Linked DNA regions of Homo sapiens. The protein of the gene in region 2 purifies or fractionates together with the protein of the main gene of each other region. This does not show direct contact. Each region holds a gene or a part of one and is shown on either strand. Other genes may lie near its edges. The genes, in order: KIF5C, XPR1, METAP1D, PJA2, COPB2, TRPM4 and EMC2.

Region 1 (3,500 bases), on a different chromosome or scaffold from region 2:
CCCTTCCAGTCCCTAAATCCCCCTGCTTCAGGGTAACCATGATTCTCACTTCTGATGCTATTAGTTTTGCTTGTTTCTTTTTAACTTTATATTACATAAAACCATAGAGTATGTTCTCTTTTGTGTGTGGTTTCTTGGGATTAAGTGTTATGCTTGTCAAATTCATCCTCATTGTTTTGTAGTATTCCATGATATGAATATACTACAATTTGTCTACTGACTGTTGATGGATATTTGGATAGTTTCCGGTTTGGGGCTAATATGGCTAGTGCTGCTATGAACATTCGTTTATGTATATTTTGGTGAGTGCATGTACAGAATAGAAGACTGCCAGATACTGAAGGGTTTGGGAGTTGGGTTGGCATGTGCCAGGATCCTTCCCATTCCTAATTGATAATGTGGCACTAAAGGAAATGAGGGTTCTGGCAGTCTGTATCATGCCATATGCAATGAGTAGAATGGTCCCAAGTCAATTCAGTTGGAGCCGGCTGACATGGCTCAGTTGCAAGTGAAAACTGTCTGAGATGTACACAACCTTCCTTAGTTCTAGGGGCACAGACTGTGGATGACCAAAGAAGCCCAGATCATCCAGAAATATGTCACCTTCAAACAGAGACAAGTAAAGAATGAATTTTGGTGGAGTTATCTGTTAGTCCAAATTCAGAATCCCAGAAATTCTTTGTGTTTTTGAAACTGGGGTCATTTTTTCCCTTAAAGTTCTGTTTGTTATGGAGATATATTCCAAGAAAGAGATTTTACAGGTGGAGTTTCTAGATTTCTCTTTTATGAAAATGTCCTGTTTGGGAGAAATGTTCTCCATCACTCCTGCAGTTTTTCAGCTTTGTGCAAAGCTGTCTTTCTCTGACCACACCAGCCACAGTCTTTCCCCACTTTGAACTCCTATAGCATTTGTTTTGTATATGATCTCCCAAGTTTTTTGCCTTGGATTATTATTAGCTTTGGTCATATGCCTAATGACATTGTAAGCCATGTTTAGAGACAAGAACTGTGCATGTTTTGCTCCTTTATACTTCCCAGGGCTTTGTCTGTAGAAGGCACTTAGTAAATATTTATCGATCTCTCTGTGAATTCTGGAAACTTTACTTTGGTATATTTAACATAGTTTACAGAGTTTTTATTGGCCGTAGGCTGTGGGGAGTAGTTAAAAAATAATTTTAAAGATAAGTGCTGTTTCTCTGAGTGGGCCTGGTAAGATAGCATATATAATACTTAAAATGATATAAGAAAATTGGGAAAGAACTGCATTCAGCTTTGGCAAAAATTAGAAGAGCTAAAGATGCTGATGGTGAACTAGAAGTAGAGGGTGGGGGTGGGTAAGTGATTAGAAAAGAGGCTCCCTCCCATAACACATTAATTTTTCAGCAAAAATATTGGATTTACAGCATTTCTCAGAGTACTCCATTAGCTGCTAAAAGTCCTGGTGAGTCATCCATTACTTTGGGTTCTGCCTATTGGTTTTGAAGCAACTGTATTAATGGAAGCTCTCTGACATGGTGAGTTCTCAGTAAAGTTCTTTGAAATGGATTTTCACACTTCACTTTCCTCTTATTGGGCTTTTCTCTTGTTTGCAGTCCTGAGAAAGCAGGTCTTGTTAAAGATGAGTGCTTCCTCCTGAGGGCCTAAGAGCCAGAGCAAAACATCAGCCACAAACCCTAAGCTGGAAAGTGGCCCCAGTCTTCAGAAGCTTAGATTATTTCTTGGCAGTAGATGGATGGGGAAGGGGCCTGGAGACCAAATCCGCGCCTGAGTTAGGATTTTAGAGATTAAGTGAAGAAATACAGCTACACCTTAAAACTTTTCTTCTTTCCACAGTAATGGTCTTCCAAAGCAATAACATTAAAACAATTTTTTCAAATTTACACGCAGTAATACCACTTTTTTTTTTTTCTTTGAGACTGAGTCTTGCTCTGTCACCCAGGCTGGAGTGCAGTGGTGTGACCCTGGCTTATCGCAACCTCTGCCTCCTGGGTTCAAGCAATTCTCCTGCCTCAGCCTCCCAGGTAGCTGGGACTACAGGCGTGTGCCACCACATTCAGCTAATTTTTGTATTTTTAGTAGAGATGGGGTTTCACCATGTTGGCCAGGCTGGTCTTGAACTCCTGACTTCAGGTGATCCACCTGCCTTGGCCTCCCAAAGTGCTGGGATTATAGGCATGAGCCACCATGCTCGGCTTGTTTCCAGTTTGGTATGATTATGAATAAAGCTGCTATAAACCTTTGCATATAGGTTCTGTGTGAGTATACATTTTTATTTCTCTTGGGTAAATATCCAGGAATGGGATTGCTGGGTTGTAAAGTAACCATACGGTTAACTCTGTAAGAAACTGCCAAACTGTTTTCTAAAGTGGTTGTACCAATTTGCATTTCCATCTAAAAGCAGTAACATTTTAAACCAAAGTAAGTTTATTTAGTCACTTTGTCTAAGTGCATTCTAGTCTAGTAGTGTCAGGATGTATCAGTTCTTCATTCCTCTGTGCCCTAAATTCAGAGATGTTTATATCACCTGAAATGGGTTAGTGGTTTCCTTCACATGTACCCTGTGAAATCATGGACTGAGGGAACATCATAGAGAGCTGTAATCTGGCGTGTGTCACTGAGGCCACTCACTATTCACAGTAGGCACACAGTCAGTGAATGGGGTGGGTAGAGGTAGCAGGAAGGGTGAGACAAAACCGAGTGTAGATTCACTAGCTAAAAAAAAACCTAGTTTTTTTTTTTTTTTTTCAAGTTGCTGAGCTTTCCTGGGCATGAGTTTTCTTGTATTGAAAGTGCAGATAATAATTACTTACCTCACAGGGTCATTTGGATGAAATGAAATGAAGTGGTGAGAGAGTGTCTGGCACAGAGAAAATGCTCAATAGGCGCTGATTACCTCCTATGTCTCCTGTTCCCTTGGTGACCTTCCTCATGTCAACATTAGCTTTGGCCCCACAAATTAGTGCCCCTTCTGGCTATCCCCTGAAAACCCTTCTTGCATTACCATTTCTTAGGCATTTGTTCACCCCATTCTCCTGGTTGGAATACCCACTGTTTTCATCTATTTCTGGTATTTCTAACTATCCTTGAAGGCAAAACTCATATTTCATTTAGCTCTAGACTACGTTAGCTGTTCCTTTGTGATCATGCATGTTTGTGTGTGCGTGTGCGTGTGTATATCTTCCCATGTAGCTTTTTCTTTTTCTTTTTTTAATTAAATTTTTGTCTCCTTTACTGTAGTTGTGTAATTGCTTAGTAAATGTATCTTGACTGAAGGTTTTTTTTCCCCCTTTCCCTGCCTGAAATCACGACTCCATAAATGCCAATTTCTGCATTTCTGTAAATAACTTGGGTATCACTGGAGACTTCCCTCTGCCTCACCTGTGCTTGTCTGGCCCGACTCCCCTATTTAATGATGTTTTCCATTCTCAGCTCTTCTTCCCATTCACAGTTGGAAACCTCCCCCTACCTTTGATTTCCCTTTAGTCCTTACCTCTAAATCA
Region 2 (3,500 bases):
TTGCTAATAAATGAGGACTTGTTGATGGAATAGGTTGACAATGGTATAAGCAGTAATAGAATAATAAAATGTACTATCAGATACACTGAAATATAGAAGGAATAATTTCCTTCTATATTTGTGGTTTGTTGTTTTTGTAGTAACTGTTATAAACAGAACAGTGTTATCATTTGTAGATAATTTTAGTATTAATTGACCTGCTGACTTATTTTAATTTAAATCTCACTGGGAAAACTTACCCTTAGACTGATTCCTAGTGAATTAACAAGAATGTGTTCACTCTAGTTATGTTTTTCTGATACCGCTTTTTAAAAGCTTCATCCTAAAGTAAAAGTACATTTCTTTCTTTTTTTCTTTAATTTTTTTTTTTTTTGAGACAGGGTCTGGCTCTATTGCCCAGGCTGAAGTGCAGTGGCGTGATCTCAGCTCACTGCAACCTCCACCTCCCAGGTTCAAGTGATCCTCCCACCTCAACCTCTCCAGTAGTTAGGACCACAGGTGTGTGCCAACGTGCCTGGCCAATTTTTTGTATTTTTGGTAGAGATGGGGTTTTGCCATGTTGCCCAGCTGGTCTCGAATTCCTGGGCTCAAGTCATCTGCCTGCCTTGCCTCCCAAAGTGCTGGGATTACAAGTGTGAGCCACCACACCCATCCTTTTCTTTAATTTTTAGTGAGAAAAGCACATAGGTCATAATGGTAGGCACTGGGTGCCATTTATATCCATATTTATATTGGAATCTATGGAATTGATATATGCTATGCTCCTAAAAACAAAGCTAAAAAAATTTATAAGAAATTGATTTATTTTGATATGAATATTGTATGTCAAATTAGTATAGATTATTTACATCCATTAGGTTATACTTTCTCTCCTTAAATCTATATTTACCTCAATCAGAAATCTAATTAGGTAGCATAAACAGTGCCTCAGATTTTCTAAACAAAAATATAAATTTTAACTCACTATATTAAAAGTAAGCTAATTAAAAATTTTAAATTATAGTCCTTTGTTACATAATTTAGACATCAGTTTTTACCAACAGTCTCTTTAGTTCTATAGTAAAAATTTTACACATTTCTATTATAAGAATAGAGAGGTGTTGTCATTTAGTAACTACTTTATGTATTTTAATTTTAAAAATAACCCACAAGTTGGAGCTGCTATTAATCCCTATTTTATAAATGAAGAAACCTACATTCAGAGAAGTTAATTAACTTGCCTAAGGTCACATAGCCAGTGAAGTGATGAAGATGAGTTATGAACCCAGGCAGTCGTTTATAATCTGTACTCTTAAACACTAACATTTAACACTTAGCCCTATTAGTCACTTATGTTAGATGTTTAACTTTGATCTAGTGGATCAAACTAGTAGAATATAAAAATCAAATTTGAGGCCAGGCACAGTAGCTCATGCCTGTAATCCTAGCACTTTGAGAGGCGGAGGTGGGAGGATCGCTTAAGCCCAGGAGTTCGAGACCAGCCTGGGCAACGTGGCAAAACCCTTTCTCTACAAAAAATGAAAAATTAGTGGGGCATGGTGGCACGCATCTGTAGCCCCAGTTACTTGGGAGGCTGAGGGAGGAGGATCGCTTGAGTCCAGCAGGTTGAGGTTGCAATGAGCTGAAATTGTACCACTGCACTCCATGAAAAGTAGAAATTAAAACTTCATCTTCTTAGCTATTTATCAGTATTAACTTAAAAGAGGATGTTAACATGTTCTTTGTAATAATTTAGTGGCTTTTTTGTGTAGGTGGTAAAATATCAGCTATCCAGAATTGTCTCTGGCTTTCATAATACTGTTACTCTAGGAATTGTCACTTTAATCAAAATCACAGGGTAGAAGTGGAGAAGTTGAAAGGCCTTATCCAGATTAAGAAGAGAAGGAGGAGTGAGTTACAGAATTCTCTCCCAGAAGGCGATATCAGATAAATCTAGAATGAATTTGACTGTGTGTAAATGTCAGTGAGTTGAGTATGATGTTTATGCTCTCCCTCTCACCCGGCCTCTGACAGAGTGACTTCTTCTTTTCTCTGTATTTCCAGGGTATTTTGTGTGTATCTCTATAATATGGTGCTATAATTATACCTTTATGTATTTATTTGCCCAACTAGACTGTGGATCATTAAGGCCTGTAAGCCGCAGTGCCTGACATTTAATAAATACTTGATAAGTCTTTGTTAAATACATGAATGACTGTAATTATATTCTTCCCTTCATTGGTTGTATTATATAACATTTACTACTCCCTTCTTTCTTCCTTTTTTCATTTTCTCTTTTTGTAAATTTTCCCTTCTTCCCAGTTTTTTTTTTAAATTTTCATGTCAGTCCTATCCTTTTTCAGTCCCATCCCACCATCCCTTTTTTCCTTATTTAATGCATTATCTCCCTCTTCTGCTCTTATGGAGATTTTCTGAATTAGCCAGGTTTTGAGGATGGGGTTGGCAGAGTATGAGAGTAATGATAGTCTGTCTCATGTCAGTTATAAAGAAATTTGTCCTAGGCTACCAGTTTCATAATAGTTCATGATTAGAGATGGATTTAGACTTCCTGATCTTTTGGTGTTATATCCTAAATTATTCTATATTTCTGTCACTTTGAATCCTTTAAGTCCATTCTGCACACTAGAGTTTCTTAAAATATTACAGAAACTGGTGCCAGAGCTTCTTCGTGCATAGATGACTACCATCCTACAGTCCCCCTCTTCCTCACAAAAAGTTTGCTTTATCGGGCGCTTATGGTTGCAAATGGTATAGATTGTCTCTCTGGTTTGTTGGACTCATGGAAAGATTATGAGAGTGGTTAAGAGACTGAGCCATGGAATGAAAGTATATCAGCACCAGAAAATAATGTCTCAAAGCCTGTATGATGTCCCACAGACACCTGGTCTAGCTTCCAAAGCTCCAAGAAAGTACCCGTCATAGGTAGTTGACATCCAGGATTGAGTCATAATGTGACCATTTATCTCCCTGACATAATAAAAATAAATATTTAGAGAAACAGAAGACAGATCCAGCCAAGTCTGAGAAGAGAGTTACAGATTCCCAAGTAGAATATGTCTATGAAATGAATATAACTAGATAATCAGAGCTAGAGATTAGATTCATTTTCTCAAAACTTCTACTTACTCAGAATTTCTTCTTTCAGGAGTCACATTTCCTACTGTATAAGATAGAAAGGGGTCCTTTAGGATGAGGATTAAGGCTTCCTTCATCCCATCTTCACTTCACACAGCGCTTATCAAGACAATCTGCACAATTTGAGCCTATTTCTGGTAATTGCATTGGTACCTACTTCCCTTCTCTGCAATGCCAAGATTTCCCTTTGTAGTGATAAACAGGCTTCCACAGAATATGTTAGGAAGAGTCTGTGTCGGTCTTCTGTAAAATGGGGATATGAATAGTTCCTAGCTCATGGAATTGTTATGAAGATGAGTTAATGCTTGCATAAAGCCTTGAGGAAAATACACTGCATGAGTTACTGCCCAATACATTTAATACAT
Region 3 (3,500 bases), on a different chromosome or scaffold from region 2:
GATTACAGGTGTGAGCCACTGCGCCTGGCCAATATTTATAGTTTCTATGAAATACCCGCTTTCCTCAAGCATTAGAAATCCATAAAAATCAGTGTGGATGCTATATATCTTAGGGAACTTGGCAAAGATGGGAGAAGTACTATGTGTATGCAGAACTTCATTTGAACAACATCTAGTTTTAAGCTGAAACAGCTTGTTTTTACGGAGACTGAATTTTCTTTTTTAGCTTTTGAACATGGAGACAGTTAAACATAATGCAAAAGTAGAGAGAATAGTACAATGAACTCCCACGTAGCCATCATCTAGTTACAATAGTCATCAACCTATGGCCACTATTGTTACATCTATACTCCCAGTTACTTTGCCTCCCCACAGGTGGATTATTTTGAAGCACATTCCAGATATATTATTTCATCTGTAGATTTTTTACCGTGTATCTCTAAAAGATAGGGAGCCATTTTTTTCTTCTTACGTTGTACATATCAGTTCTAGAATTTGCATTATAATTTCCATTTCTTGTTGAGATTTCCCACCTGTTCACTCATTATGTTCATCTTTTCCTTTAAGTACTTGAACATACATATTTATAACAGCTTTTTAAAAATCTGTTAATTTTATTATTGGGTCTCCTCAGAGTCTGTTTCTGTTTTGTTGACTGCTGTTTTTTTTTTTATTGTACATTACGTTTTCCTGCTGCTTCCCATGTCATGTAATTTTTTTTTTTTTTTTTTTTTAAGAGAAGGGCCTTGTTCTGTCACCCAGGCTGGAGTGCAGTGGTACAATCATAGCTCACTGCAACCTCAAACTCCTGGGCTCAAGCAATCCTCCTGCCTCAGCCTTCCAAGTAGCTGGGACTATAGGCGCACACCACCATGTCTGGCTAATCATGTAATATTTAATTTTATAAGTGGCATGACAGATAATATCTTGGTGGAGATTATGTTGTTTTTCTTTAACATATGTTTTAAACAACTGCCAGGCAATATGTTAAATCTGTTTGATTCTTTCAGGCTTGGTTTTTATTCTCTGTTAGGATGGATCTATTTGTGTTTTGCTGTTAGTTCTAGGGGGTGGCTGAGGCCAGTGTGGGCTCATGTGTTGTATTGTTTTCTTTTAAGGTTCATGGTCCTGCATTGCCTAATATCCAGTGCCAAGATATAGTTGCTTCACATATTTTGTCTAATTGGTTAAGACAGGTGGGAATTCTAGTACCAGTTATGCTGGAATGGATGGAAAAGGATATTAATTTTGTTTTTTTTGAGACAGAGTCTCTGTTGCCCAGGATGGAGTGCAGTGGCGCATTCTCAGCTCACTGCAACCTTCTTCTCCTGGGTTCAAGCAGTTCTCCTGCCTCAGCCTCCTGTGTAGCTGAGATTACAGGCGCATGCCACGACACCCGGCTAATTTTTGTATTTTTAGTAGAGACGGGGTTTCACCATGTTGGCCAGGCTGGTCTCCAACTCCTGATCTCAAGTGATCCACCTCAGCCTCCCAAAGTGCTGGGATTACAGGCATGAGCCACCGCGCCTAGCCGGATATTATTATTTTTTTTAATCTATAAGTTTACTTTCCCTTTTTTTTTTTTTTTGAAAATTATTTGTTGAAGCAACTGGTTAGCCTATTGGTTCTGTGGAGCTTTGCATTTTGTGGATTTTGCTGATGGTATTATATTCCACAGGGCTTGTTGAAGATGTTCCTCTATAAAATGGTAGTTAGATCCAAGGCCTGATTTAAGTTAGACATTTTTTGGTACAAGTACTTCATAGTGGTGTTGCTGGAGACATTGTGGCCTGGAGACATTGGAGACATTAGTGGCCATTGGCAATCATGACCTGGCTCATTAGGAGTTTACAAATGACAATATTTTAATTACTCCTTCTTTATTTATCAGCTAGAAAACATCTACAAAGAGAAACTTTCTCATCAAGTATTTCATTACCCTGACAGGCCCTGTCCCAGCAAGGAAAGTTAAATGGTTTGTTCTCCTTATTTATCAGTTTTTAAAATACCATAGTCCCCCGCTTATCCAATGGGGGTATGTTCCCAGACCCTCAGTGGATGTCTGAAGCCACAGATGGTACTGAACCCTGCACGGTGCTGTACTATGCTTTTTCCTATACACACATTTCTGTGGTAAGGTTTAATTTATAAATTAGGCAGAGTATGAAATTAACAACAATCACTAAAAATAGAACAATTTTAACAATATACTGTAATAAAAGTTAGGTGAATGTGGCCTTTCTCTCAAAATATCTTTTTCACTGTGCTCACCCCTTTTTTTTTATGATGATGTGAGATGATAAAATGCTTACGTGATGAAGTGAGGTGAATGAGAAAGCATTGTGATGTAGTTTTAGACTACATGTCTGAAGGAGAATCATCTGCTTCAGGTGATCCTGGATCACTAAGCCATGACATGATGTCAGAAGCAGAGAATGTGGATGACTAATGGGTTGCTAGTGTGCAGGGTGTGGACCTGCTGACAAAAGGGAGGATTCATGTCCTGAGCAGAATGGAGTGGGCCAGTGTGAGATTTCATCACGCTGTGCAGAACGGTGTGTTTGTGAATTGTTTATTTCTGGAATTTTCTTTCTTTTTTTTTTTTTGAGACAGAGTCTCGCCGTGTCTCTCAGGCTGGAGTGCAGTGGCGCGATCTCTGCTCACTGCAAACTCCACCTCCCGGGTTCCCGCCATTCTCCTGCCTCAGCCTCCCGAGTAGCTGGGACTAGGGGCGCCCACCACCGCGCCAGGCTAATTTTTTTTGTATTTTTTAGTAGCGACGGGGTTTCACCGTGTTAGCCAGGATGGTCTCGATTTCCTGACCTCGTGGTCCGCCCACTTCGGCCTCCCAAAGTGCTGGGATTACAGGCGTGAGCCACCGCGCCCGGCCTGGAATTTTCTATTTAATATTTTTAGACCTTGATTGACCTTGGATAACTGAAACTCTTATCTAAGAGGAGACTACCGTAACAGGTTTATCCTCCAAAAGTGACCAATGAATTTTTGTTTCGGGTCATTATATGGGTTAATTTTTTTTATATGGGTTTATTTTTAATTGTGTATCTACTTCTTTAATTTTCTGAAAGTATATGAAACGTCATGGAGCATTGAAATTGTGAGGCAGGATTGCAAGATTCAAGATAGAAGAGCTATTGACAGAAGTAGCATTTCTAATATATGGAATTTAAGAAACTCTTACTATACCTTAATGTTAGAGTGGAAGACTGTAGGGTAAGAGAGGATTAACAAGAAAGTGAGATGGTGTCTCCATTTTAATCTGCTGCTTGTGTGTTCTGAATGTATTGGAGAGGGAAAGCCATTGCAGTCAGTTAGAAGATAATGGCAGAAACAGAAGGACCTGAACTAGGGTAATGACTGCGGGATGGAAAGGGAGAGATGGATGCCAAGGAAATGGTACAGAGGAGAAATCATCATGACCTGGTGGTTTGCTGGAAAGGAGACCCGAGGAAGGGAAGGGGCATCAAAGCAGAAAAGGAGGA
Region 4 (2,753 bases), on a different chromosome or scaffold from region 2:
ATCAGTTGACTCTCTCCAGAATAAATAATCATCTGTGTGGCATACGTTATTGGCTTTGTCTGTAATACTGCCACTAAGTGATTATAATTAAGCTGTCCTGTTTGCATCAAATGTAAAGACTGTGTTCACAACCGTAGTAAAATTTGGTTTCATTGGAAATGAAACAAATTCTAAAGTATGCTTTTTCACTAGTCCCTTTGATTTTGCTATATCATAACCTCTTGGTTCATATGCTGAGAAATTTTTCAGAAAGTCCATTTTTGTTTAAAATTAGAACTTTTCAGAATGCCAAATGAAGGCTAAAATTTTGGCCAGAACATTACAAAAGTTTTAAATCGTAGACGTAACTCCCCCTGAAATAAAGTTAGGTAGTAAAATCCTTAATGAAACCAGTGGATGTGCTTAACGTAAGGTTAGTAAAGCATACAAAGAATCTAGTGTGCTCAGGGCTTGGTACAATGAGCTGAATTAGATGGCCTTATGAAACTCTTTCTAACCTCTTACCCAACCTGTTTCTCCTTGGTTAAAATTATACTTGAAGGCCCAGAACACTCATGGCACATTTGTTTAATATTGCTTATAGTTAGTTTAAGGTAATTTTGCTTCTACAGTATTTTGGAAGGTCTGAAAACTTGCACAGGGTCATCTTTGTAATTATATAACCCCAAACTAAGATGCACAATGTCTCCTTCAGGTGATCACACACAGTGGACGAGTATGTGCAAACATGGACATAATAGTTCACTTACAAATGTGATTTGATGTTAACACTAGAGAATGATGACTGTAGAACATTTGAGCAAGTAAAATAGTAAAGCACATAGTGAGTGTATGTCCGTCTAACTGGTACATTGATAATTTAGTTTGGGCACATAAAAGGAATATTTATATGGCTTCCCAAATGCAGAGTTACATCTTATTCGTGTATTTCTCTGAGTATTTATATCCCGTCTCCTTTTTTCATTCTTAAAAATAAATGAATTTTCACTGTTGGCACATATGAGGCTTAAATATAAGGAACATAACACTTGCATTCTAATTTTTGCATATATTGTAAATGTGTCTGGTATTTACAGCAAAATACTGTGTATCCTTTTATGGGTAAAACAAAAGTGAACATTGCATGCATGTAATGTGATGAATTTGTAATTTAGGAGTTCTTTGGGGCTTCTGTGACTTGGGAAATGCTTACATTCAGGCCTTAATGTTGCATTAGCTAGCATGTTTTCCCTCTGATGTATATAGTCACTGTTGTATAAACTAATCTTTGCTTGTTTTCTACTCTGTGATCTTTCCATATCATATTTCATTAATGATCAGTTAGTGTCAAGGAGTCAAAACAGATTAAAATTAATTTCATGTGTATATGGTGGAAATTTGTGGCTAGTGTGATTTTTGTTTGTTTCCTTTTAAGTACTGTTGATCAGTTGTGACACTTACTGGTTAAACTTACGTTGCTAAAGATTTCTCTATAATAAGCCACACATTATATTTAGACTATATTAAGGGACCTTGGTTTTCTTCTAGATAGCAGCTGTCCCAAAGAAAATATTTCTTCTTTGTCTGTTAAGATTTAGCTATTATCTGCCAGTTGTTAAGAGGTTTTGGTTCCAAACTCAACCAGCAATGTTGAGAGCTGAACTTAAGATAGCTGTTGTACTTTTTGCTTTCCATCTGTTACTGTCCTTCATTCTTGGCTCCCTACTATCTATAAACAGCTGCTGTGAAGAAGAAAAGTTGAATAAGAGTTGGCTTAAATTTTAAAAAAGAAAAAGAAAATTGAGGTTTTAGGATTTTCATGGTAACAAGCTCTGGTATAAGCTAAGGCTGGCAAGTTCAGATACTAAAATATTATTTGATCATATCTTGGATCCTTTTGAAAAAGTTAAGACTATATGAAGGTAAATTAGAAATAAGTATGAATATTAATAAAATAGCATTTATCTTATTTCTCTATTTTATGTTGTGACTTAACCTAATTTTATTTTTTTAACATTTTCTTATTTCTTATAATATGAATGCTGATATTTAAAGGTAGATCTATGTGGTATTCTTTGTGTTTCTTAATTGTTTAACTCTTAAGATTATTTGTGATCTGGATTTATGTATTTGTTAGATACATACGAATTGTTAAAATGGAATGCAAGTTTTTCAAAAGCCCAGGTCTAAATGTAATGGTTGGTTTATTGTTCTATAACCCCAGCCCATCATTTTCTGTGTAAATCATAAACAATAAACAGAATATACTCGGTGGTCATTTCTAATATTTAATTGTGTAATTGTATCACTTCTATAATGTAACCCCTGAAGGATTTAGAGTTAATGACAGATAACACTACTGAGCATGTGATGTTAGAAGTCCTTGAACTATAATCTAAGAAAGCCCTAGAAAGAGCCAGACAGAAGTAGTTGATGGACTTCCTACTGCTGGAGGGTCTCTGAGTCCTTGCCCTCTCCTCCCTGACATCCTTAGCTATCCCGTAGGTTTCAGCAGAACCTGATTTCCACACTGACTCCGGACTGCAGAAACCCTTAATAAGGAAGGGAGCCCACCTCACATCAGTGGTTTTCTCCAAATCAGGCATGGAAATATTATTAAATCTAACTGTTTAGCAAGATTCCTTGTGGTTCTCAAACAGTTCAGAGAACTCAGTCATTTCAGAAGGGTCAATTGGGTGCTGATAAATTACGCAATTCAATTAGACAAAGACTAGCCAGGCATGGTGGTGTGCACCTATAATCCCAGCTATTCA
Region 5 (3,500 bases), on a different chromosome or scaffold from region 2:
GCAGGTCTGGGCATCTTATAATGCTGTGCTGAGTATTGAAAAAGACAAAAGATATAAACCAAGTATGCCGCCTAGTTCAGTAAATGGTATCCATAATTATTTGTAATATAATTGTCTTATAAAGGTTAAGAATGCATTATGCATATTTCCCTTAATATCGTAAAACATTCTTGGCTGTAAGTTTTGCCTTTGGCAGTCTTTTGATACCAGCCTTTACAGTGTTATAAACAACTTTAAAGATAGTTGTCTTATGTCCATTGGGAAAATTTTCGTTGACTCTGCAGCATTCTGTTTTCTCATTATTTAAATGTTAAAATATCCTCTGTATTTTGCTGAATTTAAGTCTTTAAAACCTGGAGTGAGATATTTTTATTCATTTGAATGATCAGCTTTAAAATGAAGATAGTCTTTGTAATAATATAGTGCCTTCCTGTGGTATAAATGTCATGAGCAAAGTTCTAGGCATCTTGGTGCTCAACAAATACTGGTTGAATAATTGGAATCCTCCTCCTTTGCATTTCCAGCCATTCTCACCTTCCTGCCTCCAGTTGCCTTTATTTATGAGAAGACCATTCCAATAACATTTCAGCAGTAATGCCATATTCATAATTTCCTTTTCAATTTGTTGGCTAGAATTTTTTTTGTAACTTTGTATTCAAAGAAATGTATAACTTTTAAAAGATGTTAAATTGTAATAATGAACTAAATAACATTTGTTATTAGAATTCTTTTACCATAACATGAATTATTGTTCCTTAACTTCTACATGTCTTTGGTCCTCTGTACTTCCCTCCCTGGCTTCTGTGATTTCTAGGTTTGTGGTGGTGTGTGGTGATGGGGAGTATATCATCTACACAGCAATGGCATTGAGAAACAAGAGCTTTGGATCTGCTCAGGAGTTTGCATGGGCCCACGATTCTTCAGAGTAAGTTTTGATTGTATGATAGCCAGCATGCCCTGATTGCAGATGTGTTGTGTGCTGCTTGAAGACTCTCAAGGCTTGATGTGGGCTGTGATTCTCCGTGTTAAAAAACAGTTCTCACCAGAGCTGTCCATTGGAAGATGAGAGTCAGAGGCGAGTGTATAGCATGAGCCGTCTTAGTGCTTTCTTTGTTCTGCGTTAGGCTGGCTCACTCAAGCTGATACAATAATTCCATTTAACTGGGGACCCAGCACCCATTTCTTTGATGGAGCCCATGGCAGGACCTGGTGCTTTATGGGCTTAAGGCACAGTAGACCCTCATGTCTGCCTTGGCAGGCCTTGGCATGCCCTCCCTGTGATGTAGTGTCCTGAGGTGCTACTGCCCCTTTATGAGCTACTTGGGAGTGATGTTGTGGTTTGATCATTTTGATGAGAAATTTATTAAATCTTTTTTAAAACTTATTTTCTGTGATAGTACCCACTGCCCATTCTTAACAAATTTCTGTCTGAATTCAGAATGTTCATAAAATGTTCTCATTAAAAGCAGGAAAGATCATTTAACTCTGACTTTTTTACTAGTCATTGGCTCTGGTTCCTTTTTGATTCCTGTTTAATGCACGTAATAAACATTAGGGGTTTAGTGTTTTCAGACCACACAACTGAATTACATTTTCACAGTTTTTTTAGTTTTGTTTGCCCCACATTTTATGTTGCATCTTGCCCCCAACAGTGGGGTAACTTAAGCCTCAGCGTTGTGTAATAAGATACATTTTTTAAAATGTTACAACAGTAAGATTTATTGAGAGGTATGGAATTGTTCTGATATTTTCATAAATTTCCTAAATACACATATACATACAGTTCTATGTATTCAAAGGTAATGTGTTATCTTAAGCAAAATTATAGTTGATGAATTGCCTTCTCTCAGCACACCTCTTCCTCTATTTTGATAGTCCTTTTTTTCAGCTCTATCCAGCCAAGACCTTGCTCAGCATCTTTCCTGTCCTGAGCAAAGCCCTCATCACATCACTTCCTCAGACAATCTTAAATATCCAGTGATAGCCACAGCTCCTTTTTTCAAGGCAGAGGCCTGAATATAAGCAGTTGTTGCTGATGATGGCTGATTAATGAACCATTTGTCACAGTTTTTATTATTTAAATCGCCCTTATTGAGGTATAATTTACAGAAGACAGAATGTACCACTTAATTGTACAGCGATCCCCCGATCTGTGGTTTCCCTTCCTGCAGTTTTAGTTACCCACAGTCAACTGTGTTCCAAAAATATTAAGTGGAAAAGTCCAGAAATAAACAACTCATAAGTTTTAAATTGCCCAGTGTTCTGAGTTGCATGGTGAAATCTTGAGCCATCCTACCTGGGACGTGAATCATCGCTTTGTCTAGCATATCCACATTGTATATGCTGCCCACCTCTTACATTATAGGAAAAAACATAGTGTATATAGGGTTCAGTACTATCTGAGGTTTCAGGCATCCATTGGGGCTTAGAACGTATCCCCCATGGATAAGGGAGGACTACTGTTCATGTCAGTAGATTTGGGCAAATGTATGTAATCCGTAACTACTAACACAATCAAATTATAGAACATTTCTATCATCCCCGCAAAATCCCCTTGTCTCCATTAACAGTCTGTCCATACCCCCCATCCACCCATTCCCCAGTCCCAGGCAAACACTGATGAGTGCCTTTTGTCACTATATAGATTAGAGTTGTCTTTGGAGTTTCATATAAATGGAATCATACAGTATGTACTCTTGAGTCCAGCATCTTTTGTTCAGTATAATGTTTTTGAGATTCATCCATATTCTTGCCTGGATCAGTAATTGGTTTCTTTATTTGCAGAGTAGCATTCCATTATATGAATATACGATAATTTGTTTAATCATTCACCTATTGTGGACATTTGGGTCATTTTCAGTTTCTAAAGTGGTTTGTAAGCCCTAGTAATTCATGTCATACACAGTATAAAACCCTTTCATCATTTGTCCAACTGTAAGGAGTTCTCTGATCTCTTAGGAAAACAGTACATCAGATAATCTTCAAATATTTATTTTATATTTTTGCATAATTACTGAAAAATATTTGAAGATATTTCCAACATTTGGTAGAACTATGATTTAGTATATAACATGTTATGTTTGCCTTCCCTTTTTTCTCCCAGGTATGCAATAAGAGAGAGCAACAGCATTGTAAAGATATTTAAGAACTTTAAGGAAAAAAAATCATTTAAACCAGATTTTGGAGCAGAAAGTGAGTGTGATCTACATATGATACATTTTTAAATTCTTTGTAATGGCTCAAAAATGCCTAAGCAAAACTCTTTTTATGTTCCCTTTAGGTATCTACGGCGGCTTCTTATTGGGAGTCAGATCTGTAAATGGCTTAGCCTTCTATGACTGGGACAATACAGAACTCATACGAAGAATTGAAATTCAGCCCAAACATGTGAGTTTCCCCTCCATTGTTGTTTTTGGAATATTTATTTTTGTGATGAGTTCTGGGTCCCTAAGGCCAAGAAGTGTCTTTTGTACCCTGCTCTCCCTCTTCGATTATCAAAA
Region 6 (3,500 bases), on a different chromosome or scaffold from region 2:
GTTTTCTCCTATCTCCAGCAAAGGCTGATGGGAGGTAATCAAGCCCCCTTCTCTTCTTGCCTCAGGGACTGGAATTGACATCCCTGTCCTGCTCCTCCTGATTGATGGTGATGAGAAGATGTTGACGGTATAGGGGCCCGGATGCCCGGATCTAAGGGGGAAGGAGGGTTGGGGGCCAGGACTCCTGGGTCCTGAGTCTTAGGGAGGGTCTGGGGGTCTGACTCCGGGTAGGGTGAATATCCTGCCTTTTCTGACGTGATGAATAAAGAATGCCTTTATCCTGTAGCGAATAGAGAACGCCACCCAGGCTCAGCTCCCATGTCTCCTCGTGGCTGGCTCAGGGGGAGCTGCGGACTGCCTGGCGGAGACCCTGGAAGACACTCTGGCCCCAGGGAGTGGGGGAGCCAGGCAAGGCGAAGCCCGAGATCGAATCAGGCGTTTCTTTCCCAAAGGGGACCTTGAGGTCCTGCAGGCCCAGGTATGACACTGGGGGCCCAACTCTGGATCCTGAGATGGGAGGGAACTGGGGACTTGGGCTCCTGGGTCTGAGGGAGGAGGGGCTGGGGGCCTGGACTTCCAGGTTCCGGGAGAAGAGGGTGCTGGGCATATAGACTATTAGGTCCTGGAGGGGAATGGCCTCCTCCATCCCTTTGGACAGGGCCCAACAGGAGTTGGGGATGGAGGCGGGCTAGGGATGCAGAACTGGCTATTCCACAGGTGGAGAGGATTATGACCCGGAAGGAGCTCCTGACAGTCTATTCTTCTGAGGATGGGTCTGAGGAATTCGAGACCATAGTTTTGAAGGCCCTTGTGAAGGGTAAAAGTTGTACCCTCCAGTCTTCCCCCTCTCTCAGTTCAACCTTAGACACCTTTCCTGGCCTGGGCACTTCATCCACCCTCTCTAATCCAAGGCCCATGCCCCCTTTACCCCTCTTAATATTTTTCCCCTTTGGGGCTTTGCATGGTGCTATTTGGGCAGTTTTCCCAGATGCTTTCATTATGTTCCAGCATCTGCTTTCCTCTGTTGGATCCATCCATCCATTCTTTCATCTTTCCATCCATCCACATGTACAGATCGATCTTTCCATCTCTTTACCTACCATCCTTCCAGTCATCCCTCATTCTTTCATCCATCCATCCTTTCACCTGTCCATCCACACATCCACTGACAATTCCTGAGAATTCCATCCGCTCATTCCTCCATCCGTCTTCTCACCTGTCCATCCACACATCCACTGACAATTCCATTCAGTCATTCTTCCATCCATCCATCTTCTCACCTGTCCATCCATGCATCCACTGACAATTCCTGAGAATGCCATCTGCTCATTCTTCCATCCATCCATCTTCTCACCTGTCCATCTACACATCCACCGAAAATTCCTGAGAATTCCATCCACTCATTCCTCCATCCATCCATCTTCTCACCTGTCCATCCACACATCCACTGACAATTCCATTCACTCATTCTTCCATCCATCCATCTTCTCACCTGTCCATCCACACATCCACTGACAATTCCTGAGAATGCCATCCGCTCATTCCTCCATCCGTCTTCTCACCTGTCCATCCACACATCCACTGACAATTCCTGAGAATTCCATCCGCTCATTCCTCCATCCGTCTTCTCACCTGTCCATCCACACATCCACTGACAATTCCATCCACTTATTGTTCCATCCATCCATCTTCTCACCTGTCCATCCACACATCCACTGAAAATTCCATTCACTCATTCTTCCATCCATCCATCTTCTCACCTGTCCATCCACACATCCACTGACAATTCCATTCACTTATTCTTCCATCCATCCATCTTCTCACCTGTCCATCCATGCATCCACTGACAATTCCTGAGAATGCCATCTGCTCATTCTTCTATCCATCCATCTTCTCACCTGTCCATCTGCACATCCACTGAAAATTCCTGAGAATTCCATCTACTCATTCCTCCATCCATCCATCTTCTCACCTGTCCATCCACACATCCACTGACAATTCCTGAGAATTCCATCCGCTCATTCCTCCATCCATCCATCTTCTCACCTGTCCATCCACACATCCACTGACAATTCCATTCACTCATTCCTCCATCCACCCATCTTCCATCCATTTACCCATCTACCCATCCATCTTTTCATTCATCCATCCAACTGTTCTTCCATCTATCCATCCACCCACCCATTCTTCCTTCCCTACATGCTTCCAATATACATGAAGCACTCTGGCTAGACATGAACCAAAGCACTGTCTCCCAGTGAGGAAGTCCAGATATTTCACTAGAAATGGCAGCTTGGAGGACGGAATGATGAAAACCAAGGCGGGGGAGCATAATGCACACCTGGGAGAGGCTGGGGAGGGTCTTATTTATTTATTCACTTATTGAGACAGGGTCTTGCTCTGTAGGCCAAGCTGGAGTATAGTGGTGTGATCACGGCTCAGTGCAGCCTCAACCTCCCAGGCTCAAGTGATCCTCCCACCCCAGCCTTCCAAGTAGCTGGGAACATACCCGCCCACCACTACACCTGGTAAATTAAACAAAAAAAAAATTTTTTTTTTGTACAGACGAGGTCTTGCTCTGTTGCCCATGCTGGTCATGAACTCCTGGCCTCAACTGATCCTCCTGCCTCAGTCTCCCAAAGTGCTGGGATTACAGGCATGAGCCACCATGCCAGCCTCCTTTATTTAGTCAACAAATACAATCCTAGGCTCCAGAGACTAAAGCCAACCCATTTCCTGCTCTCAAAGACCCCAGATCCCACTAGGATTGTTTGGATACAACCTTAGGTAAAATTTAAGACAGAAGCACAGGCAAGAATCACTGTCGTTAGAAGGAAAACTTCAAGGAAAAGTTGTGTGTGTGTGTGTGTGTGTATTTTGAGACAGAGTCTTGCTCTGTCGCCCAGGCTGGAGTGCAGTGGTGCGAGCTTGGCTCACTGCAACCTCCGCCTCCCGGGTTCAAGCGATTCTCCTGCCTCACCCTCCTGAGTAGCCGGGATTACAGGCACGTGCCATCATGCCCGGCTGATTTTTGTATTTTTAGTAGAGACGGTGTTTCACCATGTTGGTCAGGCTGGCCTCGAACTCCTGACCTCATGATCCATCCACCTCGGCCTCCCAAAGTGCTGGGATTACAGGTGTGAGCCACTGCACCTGGCCAGAGAAGTTGGCATTTAAACCGGACCTTGGCCAGGCACAGTGGCTCACACGTGTAATTTCAGCACTTTGGGAGGCTGAGGAGGGAAGATCGCTTGAGCCCAGGAGTTTGAGACCAGCCTGGGCAGCATGGTGAAATGCCACCTCTATAAAAAATACAAATAATAAGTTGGGGAGGGTGGCGCATACCTGTAATCCCAGCTACTTGGGTGGCTGAGGCAGGGGAATCGCTCGAACCTAGGAGGCAGATTGTGCCACTGCACTCCAGCCTGGGTGATAGGGCAAGACTCTGTCTCAAAAAAAAAAAAAAAAAACCTAAATAAATAAACCAAATAAACTGGACC
Region 7 (3,500 bases), on a different chromosome or scaffold from region 2:
AGCTTACTACTACCAAGCAATTATAAATCCTTCTCAAAATAAACTATCATTAAAATTCTTGGGACAAAAAGTCACAAAGAAAATTAATATGACAAGTAGAAAAATCATGAATGAAAGAACAGTTAAAAAAAAAAAAAGGCCCATGAATGAGGCATGTACTGAGCCTGAATGTAATAAAAGAACTTACTATCATCTCCCAGCTTAGAAGCATATTCATTAATTAATTCTTCTCCAACTTCCACAATTTGCTCACTATTTCTTGAGTTTTCTTCTCTCCATTTTCTCATTTTATCTCTCATTTCTGAAAAAAATAACATGACATTTAAGTGTATATGTACCCAGACACACACATACACATCCGATAGATGTCAAAAACCTGACAAGACAAAATCAGCTTTTTAGGTAAGGAAAATAAACTCACAATCATGTAGAAGTCTGTGGTATCTCAAATTTGATAAAGTAGAAAATTAATTGAACAAGGGCAACAGATCCTTTAGAAGACTGAAACAGCATTACAACTGGTATTATGACTATCTTTAGAAGTGATGAATGGGCCAGGCACGGTGGCTTACATCAGTAATGCCAGGACTTTGGGAGCCCAAGGTAGGACAATCACTTGATCCAGGAGTTCAAGACCAGCCTGGCCAACGTGGCGAAACCTTGTCTCTACTAAATATACAAAAATTAGCCAACTATGGTGGCACACACCTGTAATCCCAGCTACTCAGGAGGCTGAGGCAGGAGAATCGCTTGAACCCAGGAGGCAGAGATTGCGTGAGCCGAGATCGTGCCACTGCACTCCAGCTTGAGTGACAAAGCAAGACTTTGTCTCAAAAAAAAAAAAAAAAGGCAGCATGGTGGCACCCGCCTGTGGTCCCAGCTACTCAGGAGACTGACGTGAGAGGATCACTTGAGCCTGGAGGTTGATGCTGCAGTGACCTGTGATTGCACCACTGCACTCCAGTCTGAGCAACAGAGCAAGACCCCTGTCTCTTAAAGGTTGAAAAAGGAGTTCAACAGGCATATAACAAAGTAAGTTATCCTATACAGAAAGAACTACTGGTAGCTGGGAATTAAATAAACACACTAGGATCAGGAAATGAGTGTATAAGAAGTAAGAAGAGTGAGTTTCTTGGAAGACTTTTATTTCATACTAGAGAACTTTAAAGTTTGTTTTTAAAGGTACAGAAGAACAACTTAAAAATGCTGAGCAAAAGAAAAGCAACACAATCATGGCTGTCTGACAGGAAAATCATTCTGGTGCAAAAAAAAAGAAACCACTAGAATTTTAAATTTTATATGTCAATTTTAAAAATAAATAAATTTGAAACCAAAACAAAAAGCCCCAGAAGATAAACTGGAAAGGAGTAAACAGTTCAAAGAAAAGAAACTGGTTGTATTAGTCCGTTTTCCCACTGCTGATAAAGACGTACCCGAGACTGGGCAATTTACAAAAGAAAGAGGTTTAACTGGACTTGCAGTTCCACGTGGCTGGGGAGGCCTCACAATGATGGCAGAAGACAAGAAGGAAAAAGTCATATCCTACGTGGATGGCAGCAGGCAAAGAAAGAGAGCTTGTGTAGAGAAACTCCTGTTTCTAAAACCATGAGATCTTGTGAGACCCATTCACTATAATGAGAACAGCATGGGAAAGACCTGTCCCCATGATTCAATCATCTCACAGTGGGTCTCCTCCTCAACACATGGGAATTATGGGTGCTACAAGATGAGATTTGGGTGGGGACACAGAGCCAAACCATATCACCAGTCATAGAGGACGTATAGTATACTGGAAAGAACATGGACTTGATACACTTGGTTTGAATCTAAACTCCATCTTTTACATGACCTTACATAACTTACCGAATCTGTACTTAGTTTCCAATACCAATGAATAGAGATAATATTACCTTTAGCTCAGGGATGAGCAGTTAAGATTACATAAAATATATATAAAGTTGCTTGGTTCGTACAATAGTTTGGATATTTTTGTTTTTAAGTTGATTTTGATTACCCTTAGATAAGGGTATACACTTACCAGTTCTTCACAGGCACCACTATTGTCTTTCACCCAACTACATGTATTTTCATCTGCTTGGCCCTTGAGTTTAGGACACCAAACACTAGAAAATTCGTGTAAAGCATTTTATAAAATGTGAAGCCCTACAAAAATTCTAGTTACTTTTATTTTTTAAAAAAATCTGGTAACTGTTTCAGCCTCTCACAAGAAATAAAGGCTCTTCCCTCACTCTTTCCTCAAAGGTGGCTTAAAACTTTCATTTTACCCTTTCACCTTCCTGCAAAAAGCTCGCTCCTCAAAGCCAAGGTCATTTTATTACATACTATGTAAGTAAGCTTCTCACTGCTTGCTTGTACATTTTATTAACTACTGTGCAATCCTGTGAGATGAGCTAAAGGTCAAAGGTTAAGAGAGTCGCTATGATTGTTCTGTTTATTCCTTCCATGACAACTTGCATGAGATGTCACTGCAGTGAGGTGGCCTCTGAAAGATGGAAAAATATGCCTGCTACTTAATTATGATTTCTTTAGTCCAAAACTACTTCCTCCAATCCTGTATCTTTTCCACTTCATTTTTTTATATATTCGGAAATACCACTTACAGATTCATTTACATAAACCAGCATATTCTTTTAAAAGGTTGATAATTACAGGATAATAAATTTTAAATTATTCATGGTCCCATAAAAGTATCTAGTCAGATTGGCTGCAGGCTGTTGGGAACAGCTATTCTAAAAGAAAAGGCAACCTGATTTGAAAAAGGAAAGGGTTAATTTATTTTAATGCACACAGAGCTCCAGAAGACGTATTTTTCAAACTGTGTATTACAATCCATTAATAGGGTATAAAATCGGTTCAGTGGATTTCTTCCAGCATCTGTTGGGGGTGGGGGGGCAGTGGGGGAGAATGAAACAAAATGAACAGAATGGAAGCAATACTCATTAGAATCCTTTGTAAATGCAACTTTGGTTTCAGTTTATACATACACTCAAAGATTCATGTATAGGTATACTTAATTGAGTATGAGTTAATTTGTAAAAGGTGTTTCTTATTGTGAAAAAACACTCATAGGAAAGAGAACTTTTTTTAAAGCATAACTTCTAAGAACGGCAGTCTGACACACAGTCACATATTAAAATATAATAGCTGAACACAAAACAAGAAACACTGTGTATGAAAATATAACTTACAAAACAAGCAACATTTTACCTATAAACACCTTAAGCTATACACCTTACATAGCTGACCCTGCCACACTCTTGAGTGCTGCTGTAATAAATACATTTGTAGCACTATTAACCACATACTACTTTTAGAAATGCCTTAAATACATTTATCTAAAAAAATTATTTGTAAAAATAAAACCATCTTGAAGAAAACATGTTTTCACCTTTGATAGCTCATTACCTCAAAATCACAGCATCCGAAAATCAAGTCATCTTCATTTCCTAAAAATATGGCCTCCCTTCCCAATGTTCACA

Evidence for each region.
Region 1: the proteins of XPR1 (region 2) and KIF5C purify together in Homo sapiens (affinity purification with mass spectrometry; one large-scale study listed by BioGRID and IntAct). This does not show direct contact.
Region 3: the proteins of XPR1 (region 2) and METAP1D purify together in Homo sapiens (affinity purification with mass spectrometry; one large-scale study listed by BioGRID and IntAct). This does not show direct contact.
Region 4: the proteins of XPR1 (region 2) and PJA2 purify together in Homo sapiens (affinity purification with mass spectrometry; one large-scale study listed by BioGRID and IntAct). This does not show direct contact.
Region 5: the proteins of XPR1 (region 2) and COPB2 purify together in Homo sapiens (affinity purification with mass spectrometry; one large-scale study listed by BioGRID and IntAct). This does not show direct contact.
Region 6: the proteins of XPR1 (region 2) and TRPM4 purify together in Homo sapiens (affinity purification with mass spectrometry; one large-scale study listed by BioGRID and IntAct). This does not show direct contact.
Region 7: the proteins of XPR1 (region 2) and EMC2 purify together in Homo sapiens (affinity purification with mass spectrometry; one large-scale study listed by BioGRID and IntAct). This does not show direct contact.

The regions. Positions count from the first base shown.
Region 1 is NC_000002.12:148,878,227-148,881,726, forward strand, and holds part of KIF5C (kinesin heavy chain), read left to right. Parts: intron 1-3,500. UniProt on the Homo sapiens protein: Microtubule-associated force-producing protein that may play a role in organelle transport. Has ATPase activity. Involved in synaptic transmission. Mediates dendritic trafficking of mRNAs.
Region 2 is NC_000001.11:180,827,522-180,831,021, forward strand, and holds part of XPR1 (solute carrier family 53 member 1), read left to right. Parts: intron 1-3,500. UniProt on the Homo sapiens protein: Inorganic ion transporter that mediates phosphate ion export across plasma membrane.
Region 3 is NC_000002.12:172,006,453-172,009,952, forward strand, and holds part of METAP1D (methionine aminopeptidase 1D, mitochondrial isoform 1 precursor), read left to right. Parts: intron 1-3,500. UniProt on the Homo sapiens protein: Removes the N-terminal methionine from nascent proteins. The N-terminal methionine is often cleaved when the second residue in the primary sequence is small and uncharged (Met-Ala-, Cys, Gly, Pro, Ser, Thr, or Val).
Region 4 is NC_000005.10:109,334,222-109,336,974, reverse strand, and holds the end of PJA2 (E3 ubiquitin-protein ligase Praja-2), read left to right. Parts: 3' UTR 1-2,253; downstream 2,254-2,753.
Region 5 is NC_000003.12:139,369,148-139,372,647, reverse strand, and holds part of COPB2 (coatomer subunit beta'), read left to right. Parts: intron 1-814; coding exon 815-925; intron 926-3,103; coding exon 3,104-3,192; intron 3,193-3,280; coding exon 3,281-3,387; intron 3,388-3,500. UniProt on the Homo sapiens protein: The coatomer is a cytosolic protein complex that binds to dilysine motifs and reversibly associates with Golgi non-clathrin-coated vesicles, which further mediate biosynthetic protein transport from the ER, via the Golgi up to the trans Golgi network.
Region 6 is NC_000019.10:49,171,292-49,174,791, forward strand, and holds part of TRPM4 (transient receptor potential cation channel subfamily M member 4), read left to right. Parts: intron 1-65; coding exon 66-127; intron 128-286; coding exon 287-478; intron 479-717; coding exon 718-817; intron 818-3,500. UniProt on the Homo sapiens protein: Calcium-activated selective cation channel that mediates membrane depolarization. While it is activated by increase in intracellular Ca(2+), it is impermeable to it.
Region 7 is NC_000008.11:108,446,624-108,450,123, reverse strand, and holds part of EMC2 (ER membrane protein complex subunit 2), read right to left. Parts: intron 302-3,500; coding exon 188-301; intron 1-187. UniProt on the Homo sapiens protein: Part of the endoplasmic reticulum membrane protein complex (EMC) that enables the energy-independent insertion into endoplasmic reticulum membranes of newly synthesized membrane proteins.